2 separate regions of the Homo sapiens genome follow, and region 2 is linked to region 1. Evidence: fine-mapped expression QTL. A gene starts in region 1. The other region holds a variant in brackets. All regions are shown on one strand. Distances are from middle to middle.

Region 1 (5,385 bases):
GCTACTATCATTTTTCATCTGGACTCTGACCATAGTCTACTGAGGAATCTCTCTTCTCTTGCTTCAATCAATTGATTTTCTGAACAATCACCAACTGGCAGGATGGCTTATCGCTTAAGTCAAATCATGCACTCAGTTGCTAAATACATTCCAATAGTCCCCCATTGCAATTAGAATAAAACCTAAAGTCCTCAATGCTGGCTACAAGGTCCTGCTTGTTCTGGTTCCTGCTTACCTCTCTGTCCCCATCCACTATTGCTGCCCTACTCTTTCAGAACATTCCAGGCACACTGGCCTGCCTTCTTTTGAACTTTCTATGTTCCTATCTCAGCCCCTCTTCTTGTTCTTCCTTCTCTTGGAATCCTTTCCCAAGTTTCTGAATGGCTGCCCCTTCTCATTACTTTGTAAAGAGGTGATCCTTGACCACTTTCCCTGCCCCAAGAAAGTCACTCTCATTGTTTGATTTTATATTTTATGTAGCACTTACAACTCTGCTCAGAACCTTCCACTGGCTTTCCATCTCACTCACATCAAATTCTCTTCCACAGCTCCCAAATAGCACACAATCTGGGCACCATTTCCTTTTGATCCCATCTCATGTCTGTCCCTCCCATCTCACTCTGCTCAGCCGTACTAATTTCCTTGGTGTTTTTCCAATATCTTAAGTGCTCTCCTAACTCAGGGTCTTTGAATGTGCTGTTCCTTTTGCCTGGAATATTCCCATCTAAAAACCCAGTGTGGATTAATCTCTCATGCCATTTAGATCTAGCTCAAGTGTCACTTATCAGACAGAAATACCAGTTTCAGGTGTTTCTGTCTATTGGGAGACTGCCTTTCCCTGGTGCTATATTAAAAAAAATTAGGATAAATAAATAATAAATAAATAAATGAAAAATACATTTTCTCTTCCTTATGATTTTATTAATAACAGTTTCTTTTCTCTGGCTTACTTTATTATAAAAATACAGTATTTAATATATATAAAATAATATGAGTTAATCGACTATGTTATCAGTAAGGCTGATAACAACTGCTTGATCATCACCTGATGGTCACCTGACATTCCTGGTAGGGGGTGGGAGGAGCCCTCTCCTGCCCTGCTCATGCCTGACTAGCTACCTACTGTAACAGAACAATGCCAGATTTCAGGAGTACCAAACTGCTGCACAATTGAAAATCCATGTATGTCTTTTGACTCCCCCAAAACTTAACCACGAATAGCCTACTGTTGACCAGAAGCCTTACTGATAATATTAAACAGTCAATTAACACATATTATGTTATATGTATTTAGATAAATACTGTATTTTTACAATAAAGAAAGCTAGAGAAAAGAAACTGTTATTAAGAAAATCATGAGGAGAAAATATATTTTCTATTTATTTATCGTTTATTTACCCTAATTAATACAGCAACCCCATCCCCATGCCCATCACTCTCTATCCCTCACCTTTTAACTTCCTTCAAAACTAGTTACATTCCTTGACATGTTAAATATTAATTTGTTTATTGTCTGCTTTCTACCAACTAGAATGCACCATGCATGAGAGCAGAAATTGTTTCCTCTAACTATTTTCATTGTTCTTAGAAGTGTTGGTGCTTACGAATAGTTTCTCATTAAATAAATGACAGAACTATTTGAAATTGCCTAATTAACACATGCACCTAATTTCTGTCTTTATGTCTTCACCACCTTCCCTGACATATAAGCCTTTGAAGACACAGCTGTAGAGGAGAAGGGGAGGGTTATTCAACCGCATTTACAAATCATAACTGATTTTAACTTCTGTATTTTCAGACCTCCCCAGCGACTTTCTCTCAGGAAACTCCACTCCCAACTGACAGGTGCTATTTCCAGCCAGTCCTATGCTGTTGCAAATAGTGAGTCCATGAATGCCCTCTGCCGTGTGCATTACTTATTTTCATCAGCAGATCTTCGTAACACACTCCTGGAAGTGGGATGACGGGGTCAAAAGGCGAATCCATACATAAGTTAAATAGATATTGCTCAATTCTCTTCCACGGGGTTCAGACCATTTTGGATTTCTACGAGCAATGAAGACAGTGCTATTCCTCTACACCCTGGCCGGCCAACTGAGCGTGGTTAAACGTGGGGAGGGAGGAGGGTGAGGTTACCAACCTGATGGTTGAGAAAGGGCCTCCGCCCAGCGCGCCCTTCCTCCACCCCCACCCGAGAGACAGCTGAACTCCGGCCGGGACGCGCGTGTTGCCAGTCCAGCCCTGCACCGCGTCCCCTGAGGGCGGGCTGCAGGCGGCCGGGAAGCCTTGCACAACCGGCCCAAAAGAGGAAGCCCAGAAAGTGCTGAAGTAAACACTTTGGGAGACCGTTGCAACATAAAGCGGCCTCTCAGTCTTTGGTGGAACCATCACTAGGCCCCAATCCCTTAGTCCCTCTTGCGTCGAGGCTGCAAAATGGTTCCATTCGCCAGGAGACGCTCCTGAGAGAAGGGCGCGCGCGGCACAGGTAGGGGGAGGCGCAACGTTTCCCAGAATTAAAATAAAATAAAATAAAATAAAATAAAAATCCCTTCAAGGTGGTTGTGTAGTAGGGGTGGGATGGGGGAGAGAAAATCAGGCGCAGACTCGATGAGTTGGAGAAAGCAGCCCCTAACTCGGAGTCCTTTACGCATATGTTTGTCTGTCCCACTGTCTCTAACCAGGGGCCTTCCTTGCACCTCGGAGCAAAGCAGCTCGGATAGCGCCACACGTCTGCGCGCTGCGTGGGAAGGGCAGGGCTGACAGCACTTCCTCCCCGGGGCAGCGACCTGGAGCCCGGGTGCGGCAGTCTGCACCGCGCGTCGCTTTCCCGGCCGGAGTCTCGCCGCCTTCCCGCGCCCCGCAGCGCCCCGCAGAGCAGTCGAGGTAAGTGGCGCTCCCAGTCCCGGGAGCCCTGGGAGCGCCAGCACGGGCCCCTCGGGGCTGTCAGGAACCCGTTTGTCAAGCCCGTCGGGTCCGACGCCGGGGGCAGCTCCAGGATCTGGCCTCGTGAACGCGTGCCCCCAGGCGTGGCCCTCGAGCGCAGCGGGTCCCCAGGGTCCCCTCCGCTGATCTCCACTCTGGACCCGGCTCGCGAGGGTGGGGGTGTGAGGGTTTGGGGTTCGGGTTTGCTTTTTCCCGAGCTATTGCAACAGATTTGACAGATTTCCTGCCCAGGAAATTGCTGCAAGGTCAAACGGGGAACTGCTATGAACCCTTGCACGTCCAGCAGGTCAGCAGGTCAGCAGGTCAGCAGGTCCGGGAGCCCCAGTCTCCCGGAACCTGGAGGGATTCTTGAGGGGCCAAGATTAGATGTGGATTAAATGCCAGCCGTGTGAGAATTTGAGTGTGGCTCGCAGTCTGATGCATCTTAGAGTGTTTCCTTCCTCTAAAACTTTTGGACAACTCTTTCCTCTTTTTAAAAATAACTTTTTCCCCCGAATATTCTCATTTTCATTTTAAAATACCATAAAGATAGATTTGGACACCAGGCACAAGTTTCATAATTTGGCTTGAAATGAATATCCAGAGGGCCTTTTACAGAATGGAGGAAACTAACTAGGGTGTCCTAATGTCTCCAAGAACCTCTGCGCAGGTGTTCCACCAAAGACCTAGCCCGGTGTACCTCTTACTTTCCTGCTAAGGTATTTCTTAGTTCATACCCCTGTGGAACGTGAAATGTGTTTCCTAGACACTCAGGGCATAGCGGTTCAAAAGAACTTTTAATGTGATCCTTGACGAGACGGAGTACTAGAGGAAAGTAACAAAAGAAAAGGGCCCGTGAGTTTATTATGCCCCCAGATGTTTTTTTCTGGTGGCATAACGTGGTTTAAACAAAGGTGCCGGTACTAGCTACTATTCATTTTAAAATCTGGGTCTCCAGAGAGAAATTTCAGAAAGGAAAACTTTGTCCTTTTTCATAAACCTAGAGCAGCGATTTTCCCTCTGGCCTCACTGGAATAATGGGTGGCACATGGGCCAGGACGATGATGCTGGCTGGCGAAATTAGCAAGGATCTGCTGAGAAATACTTTATAAAGTCTTCTAGTGGTATTTCCTGTCTGCTCAACGTGTGTTGTGAAAGGTCTAAGAAATTTAACTTCATCCTTAAACTATTAATAATGTGTGTCCTTAAACTATTAATCCTTAAACTATTAATAATTACTAATATTTGGGTTTTTTCTCAGCACTTGGGAGACCTGGGTTCTGGCTCTTATATCTCCCCCATCTAGATAAGGATGATATTGATTAACTTGCATAACTTCTCCCTGGACTTCAGATAACGTCAGTAAAGTGAGATGATTGGGCTACATTATGTCTGTTCTTAAAATAGCAATTGAGGAGTTGCTATAATTCTTTGAATTGGTCCCAACTGGAATACTGGCAACATTATATCAACATTAGAATTGCTGATCACAAATTTTTTAAAAATGGAGAAAATAATCATAACCATAACAGATTACATTCTGAAATATCAATATCTTTGAGGTCTTTTGTTTCTGAGAAGTTCCTGTAAAAGCGCAGTCAATATCTGGCCTATATGTAAAAAGGCAAATTTCCATCTTATTTGAAAACTGAGATAAGAAACAGCCCAAACTTGAACAGGTCAATATTATATTTTGAAATCTTTAAATTGCTATTTCTCAAGAAATATAACTTTGTAATATGAATTACTTTATGGCATTACTTTAAATCTTAAACACAATACTAGGTTTTATAGTATTTATTACATTTTTTGTATTTTTATATCCTAAGAATGTTCACCAGTTATCCACTATTGATTTGCCTTTTTTCACTCATCAATCAAAGTTTTAAATAGTTCCATATTATTATTAGAATGAGCTACTTATAAAGTTCATTGCCATAAATGTCTGTTTGATATGTCACTTTGAATTTTCTTTAAGCCATCTTACTTCCAAAGAGCATTATTATTTTCATTTTCTTCTAATTCTCTTCAATTTTATTTTAATTATTTTTATGCCTAAAACATTTTAGTGAGTCCACAAATCTTATAATAAATTGTCTGCGTTCCATAGCCTATTGGACCACAATCTTTACAATTTTATAGGACCCCATGAGTTTATATTATGGAGACTACGGTGATCTTAGGAATGCTTGCCTCAAAACAGAACAATTTTTATTAACACAACAGGTATCTTCTCAGTATGAAAATGAATGTGTGTGTTTTATGTCACTGCTGTCATCTAAGAGGCAAGTCACTTAAAGCTTAAGCATTTATTATAAATTCATGTACATAATAAATGCCAGATTTTAAAGTGTAAGATTTCTACACTGGTTGCATGGGGATTTTAAAATACATATTACACTTTTAATTATCGTGAGAAACATGACTTTTAGAGAAAACTGCTAGATATCTGGAACAGTAATC
Region 2 (5,385 bases), 21 kb before region 1:
AGTGTCTGAAGATTGCTGCATGAGCAGAAATAGAGTGCAGAGTCTTTGAGGTCCCCAGAATGGGACAATGACATGCTCATCGAGGTCTTCTCTAAGCATGTTGGCCTCACTGCCTGGTCCTGGGCACAATTCACAAGTGAAGGCACCACTAGAGTGTGAAGGTCACATTGGCCTGAAGTTACTCACATCTGTTCCTGTTTACAGCTGTCAAAGCCATCTTGAATATGTTGCCATCTGCACACCAACCTTGTGATGAGGGCAGGAAGGCATTATGATTGGTGTCATTTTACAGTCCAGGTGCTGGTAAGACCATAAAGTGATCTTCTGACCTCTTTCTTCTCATGTTTCACAGTCTGATCTGGGTGTTTAAACTGACTACTTCACACTACCTCTCTTAGAAAAGGAAGAACCAATTTAGAACAATGTGCTTGGAGAAATGAAGACTCCCTACGTTCCCTCCGCTCTCTACCTCCCACACACCCACTAACCCCTACTACAGCTATGCCCCGGTGTCTTCAGGGAGCTCACCCAACAGGAGCAAGAGGACTTCTTTAAGCTGAGACTGCAAAGGTCAGAGACACCACTCAGCAAAGAGCCAGGAGGTGTGCATTCTAAGCAGCAAAGCGGTTCTCAATATTCAGGAAAAGACCAGATGTGGGGGCTCATGCCTGTAATCGAAGCACTCTGGGAGGCCAAGGCGGGAGGATCCCTTGAGGTCAGGAGTTTGAGGCTGCAGTGAGCTACAATGGCACCCCTGCACTCCAGCGTGGGTAACAGAGCAAGACTTGTCATTACATAAATAAATACTCAGGAAGAGAGAAGAAAATGCCAGTATGGCTTGAATTTGGTTTGCTATGGGGAGAGAGAGCAACGAGATGAGGTTGGAGAGGTGGGGTTGGCGTCAGATCTTGTAAGTCTGGCAAGGAGTCCAAGTTTTATTCCAAGTACAAGAGCAAGTTTAAATTTAATGTAAGCAAGGAATGACAAATCTGACTTGTTTAGGGAGGCAGGACATACAGTGGTTAATAGTCCAAGCTCCAGAATCAGACGACCTAGATTTAAATATCATTTCTACCATTTATTACATGGGTGGGTGTAGGCATATTATTTAAAATCCACATGTCATGTTTCTCATTTATAAAAGAAAGATAGCAGCAATAATAGCCCAGCATAGGACTGTTTTAAAATGATTTATTTGCCAAGCGTGGTGACTTAATCCTCTCATCGCAGCACTTTGGGAGGCTGAGGTGGGAAGATGGCTTGAGCCCAGGAGTTTGAGATCTGCCTGGGCAACATAGGGGACCTTGTCTCTACAAAAGCATTGGTAAATGTTACTTGTCTATATTTTTAAAAACTAATGCATCCTACTGTGTGGAAAATGGATTGAGAGTGAGAGGGTAAGGAAAAAGACCAGCTGAGAAGTTATTGAAGTGGCCCGAGGAATAGTTCATGGGGCTTGGTCTAAGTAAGTGAGGATAGAGACAAAGAAAAGGATATATAATAAAGACATGCTAATTCATTAGATGAGGAAGAATAAATAACCAATGATGGTTCATGGGTTTTGGACTGAAGAGATGCCTTTTACTGAGATGAGAAAAACTAGGGGTAGAATTGGCTTAAGAAAAAAATCAAAAGTTCAGTTTTATCCATGTCATACCTCTTAAATACTCAAGTGGAAAGGTCAAGAAGGCAATTAGATAAAACCAAGTAAATGTAACTGTAGCTGGCTAGACTTCTTGTAGCAGAGAACAGGACTAGGCTCACCATGTGAAACTGGGTGAAGATAGAAAGTGTCAGGAAAAATTACAAAAGACTTCGAAATGGATAAAAAAGATTAGTGGGTGTCCTGTCTAGCTTTACCATCCTGGTTATCTCCAGAGGCTTTGCAACTCTCAAAGACAGTAAATTCTGAAAAACCGGTAATAGTGCCAATGATTCTTGCTCACAAAAGTGCAATTGACTTGTGTCTGGTGAAATGTAATGGATTATGGTATTGGAGATAGACCAGTTTTTTAAATCTGTTTGTAAATTCATTTCAACATTTCTTTATGCATATAAACATGTGCTTCTTTGAAACAACTGTAACATCTTACCGGTTCCCTCATTAGTTAATGAATTAAATAAAATATTTGACAAGCATGGATTTTATATTTGTATGAGAATTGTAGTTGATCATTTTAAAAATTTATCTGTTAACAAGGACATTTTCCAATGAAAAGAAGATGAAGGGGAAAAAAGTGCTTCAACCAAACACTACTTAGAGCTGTGGACTGTACGTAACTTAATAACCCAAGGAGGAAGAAGCCATCAAAAATATCATAGAGCCTGGACCTATAACTAGTTAGCCTCTGGCTTTGAACCTAGACCTCTTCATGGAAGGGGTTGTGAATAGCATCTCTCTTCCCCACCTGAGTTCTGAATATATTGAACAAAAGACAAGTGAATGATTATTGGAAGCCAAAATATCACCTTCTTAATCATAAAAGCTAGACTAGAGACAGGGTGTGTAGCTCTGTATGAGAGCCAGCTGGGCTTTCTATCACTGAACTCTAGAATTAGACCAACTCACCCAAGCCACAGCAGTGCTAAACCAGGAAAATCCGCTCAACAAATGATGCTTGGACAACAGAATAAATGCATGAAAATAGATTGAATCTCAACCCCTACCTCACACAACTCATAAAAATTAATTCAGGATTGATCTTAGGCATAAATTTAAACTATACCTAAAACTATAAAACTTCTAGAAGAAAGCAAAAGAAAATCTTTGTGATCCTGGAGCCAGCAAAGATTTTATAGGTAGGACACACACAAAAAACAATCATAAAAGAAACAAATGGATAAATTGAACTTCATCAAAATTAAAAACATGATCAAAGGGGAAAAACCTTCAGTAAATTGTACACTTAAAAAAGATGCATTTCTCAGTATGTAAATAAAGAAACTAAAAATTTTCTATTAAGAAAAATGTTTATTGTAAAAATGAAAAACATCATAATTCACAAAGTTAATGTTCACAGAAGGAAAATAAATAATAATCAACAATATTTGCTGTTATTTGCAGAGCCACAC[T/A]ATTATGTCATAAATTTACAATACAAATCTGCTAATATCTTCTTCTACAAGCCTCTCATTAAAATAGAAATTTATTTCATTTTATTTATTTATTTATTTATTTATTTTTTCAGATGGAGCCTCACTCTGTTATCCAGGCTGGAGTGCAGTGGTGCGATCTCAGCTCACTGCAACCTCTGCCTTCTGGGTTCAAGCAATTCTCCTGCCTCAGCCTCCCCAGTAGCTAGGATTACAACCGTGTGCCACTAAGTCCAGCTAATTTTTGTATTTTCAGTAGAGATGGGGTTTTGCCATTTTGGCCAGGTGGGTCTTGAACTCCTGACCTTAGGTGATCCACCCACCTCAGCCTCCCAAAGTACTGGGATTATAGGCGTGAGCCACCGCGTCTGGCTGAAATAGAGATTTATTTTAAAATGCAGGAATTTTCTCAAACTAGTTTTCTTTCATTTCTAAGAAAGATAAGAAAAATAGTTTAAGGTAATGAAAAATCATAATTTTTTTATTATACTTTAAGTTTTAGGGTACATGTGCACAACATGCAGGTTTGTTACATATGTATACATGTGCCATGTTGGTGTGCTGCACCTATTAACTCGTCATTTACATTAGGTATACCTCCTAATGTTATTCCTCCTCCCTTCCCCCTCCCCCACGACAGGCCCCAGTGTGTGATGTTCCCCTTCCCGTGTCCAAGTGTTCTCATTGTTCAATTCCCACCTATGAGTGAGAACATGCGGTGTTTGGCTTTTTGTCCTTGTGATAGTTTGCTGAGAATGATGGTTTCCAGCTTCATCCATGTCCCTACAAAGGACATGAACTCATCATTTTTTATGGCTGCATAGTATTCCATGCTGTATATGTGCCACATTTTCTTAATCCAGTCTATCATTGTTGGACATTTGCGTTGGTTCCAAGTCTTTGCTATTGTGAATAGTGCCGCAATAACCATACGTGTCATGTGTCTTTATAGCAGCATGATTTATAATCCTTTGGATATACACCCAGTAATGGGATGGCTGGGTCAAATGGTATTTCTAGTTCTAGATCCCTGAGGAATCGCCACACTGACTTCCACAATGGCTGAACTAGTTTACAGTCCCACCAACAGTGTAAAAGTGTTCCTATTTCTCCACATCCTCTCCAGCACCTGTTGTTTCCTGACTTTTTAATGATCACCATTCTAACTGGTGTGAGATGATATCTCATTGTGGTTTTGATTTGCATTTCTCTGATGGCCAGTGATGATGAGCATTTTTTCATGTATCTTTTGGCTGCATAAATGTCTTCTTTTGAGAAGTGTCTGTTCATATCCTTCACCCACTTTTTGATGAGGTAGTTTGTTTTTTTCTTGTAAATTTGTTTGAGTTCTTTGTAGATTCTGGATATTAGCCCTTTGTCAGATGAGTAGATTGCAAAAATTTTTTCCCATTCTGTAGGTTGCCTGTTCACTCTGATGGTAGTTTCTTTTGCTGTGCAGAAGCTCTTTAGTTTAATTAGATCCAATTTGTCAATTTTGGCTTTTGTTGCCATTGCTTTTGGTGTTTTAGACATGAAGTCCTTGCCCATGCCTATGTCCTGAATGGTAATGCCTAGGTTTTCTTCTAGGGTTTTTATGGTTTTAGGTCTAACATTTAAGTCTTTAATCCATCCTGAATTAATTTTAGTGTAAGGTGTAAGTAAGGGATCCAGTTTCAGCTTTCTACGTATGGTTAGCCAGTTTCCCAGCATCATTTATTAAATAGGGAATCCTTTTCCCATTTCTTGTTTAAACACTTTTATTGAAGAAGACCTGCCAATAACGTGAAGTGCCTTAGGGAACTAGTTTATATTTACCTTATATTCAACTGGACAGTGTTTGTGGCCAACATTTAAAAATGACTCTGTGCCCATTAAAAGCTATCAAATATTAATCTGTGGTTCTAAATTAGTGAACAGACCTAATACTCAGGAGGCTGAGGCAGGAGGATTGTTTGAGTCCAGGCATTCAAGAACAGCTCAGGCAGCTTAGTGAGACCCCCATCTCAATTAAAAAATAAACAAATAAGTAAATAAAAATCAAATATGAAACAGGGTTAAGATTGCAGCATTGCAATACATTCTCATGCACATTTCTTTCTTACTTTAATCAAACTATTACAATCTTGACATACACACATACAGAAAATTATTTAAATTGGAACTGGTAGAAACTCTCCTATTCCTGATGGAGTTTCACCAGATAGTCTGAGGAGTTTGTATGTTTTGGCCTCTGTTACCAGAAGTCATAGAGTTCTAGCAAAGAAGACAATAAAGGTACTTTAAGTTGGATGAAAA

What was found.
Region 2: its variant is fine-mapped to the expression of APBB1IP in whole blood (TOPMed, PIP above 0.99).

Annotation. Positions count from the first base shown.
Region 1 is chr10:26,435,971-26,441,355 of GRCh38, forward strand. APBB1IP (amyloid beta precursor protein binding family B member 1 interacting protein) reads left to right here and starts at 2,371. Exons shown (of 15, transcript NM_019043.4): 1 at 2,371-2,485; 2 at 2,682-2,883. RefSeq lists enhancers at 1,688-2,217, 1,935-2,064, 2,625-2,704.
Region 2 is chr10:26,415,245-26,420,629 of GRCh38, forward strand. No RefSeq gene overlaps it. Among named protein-coding and RNA genes, the nearest start is that of APBB1IP, 20 kb to the right of the region's middle. The variant T/A (reference allele first, on the strand shown) is at 3,073.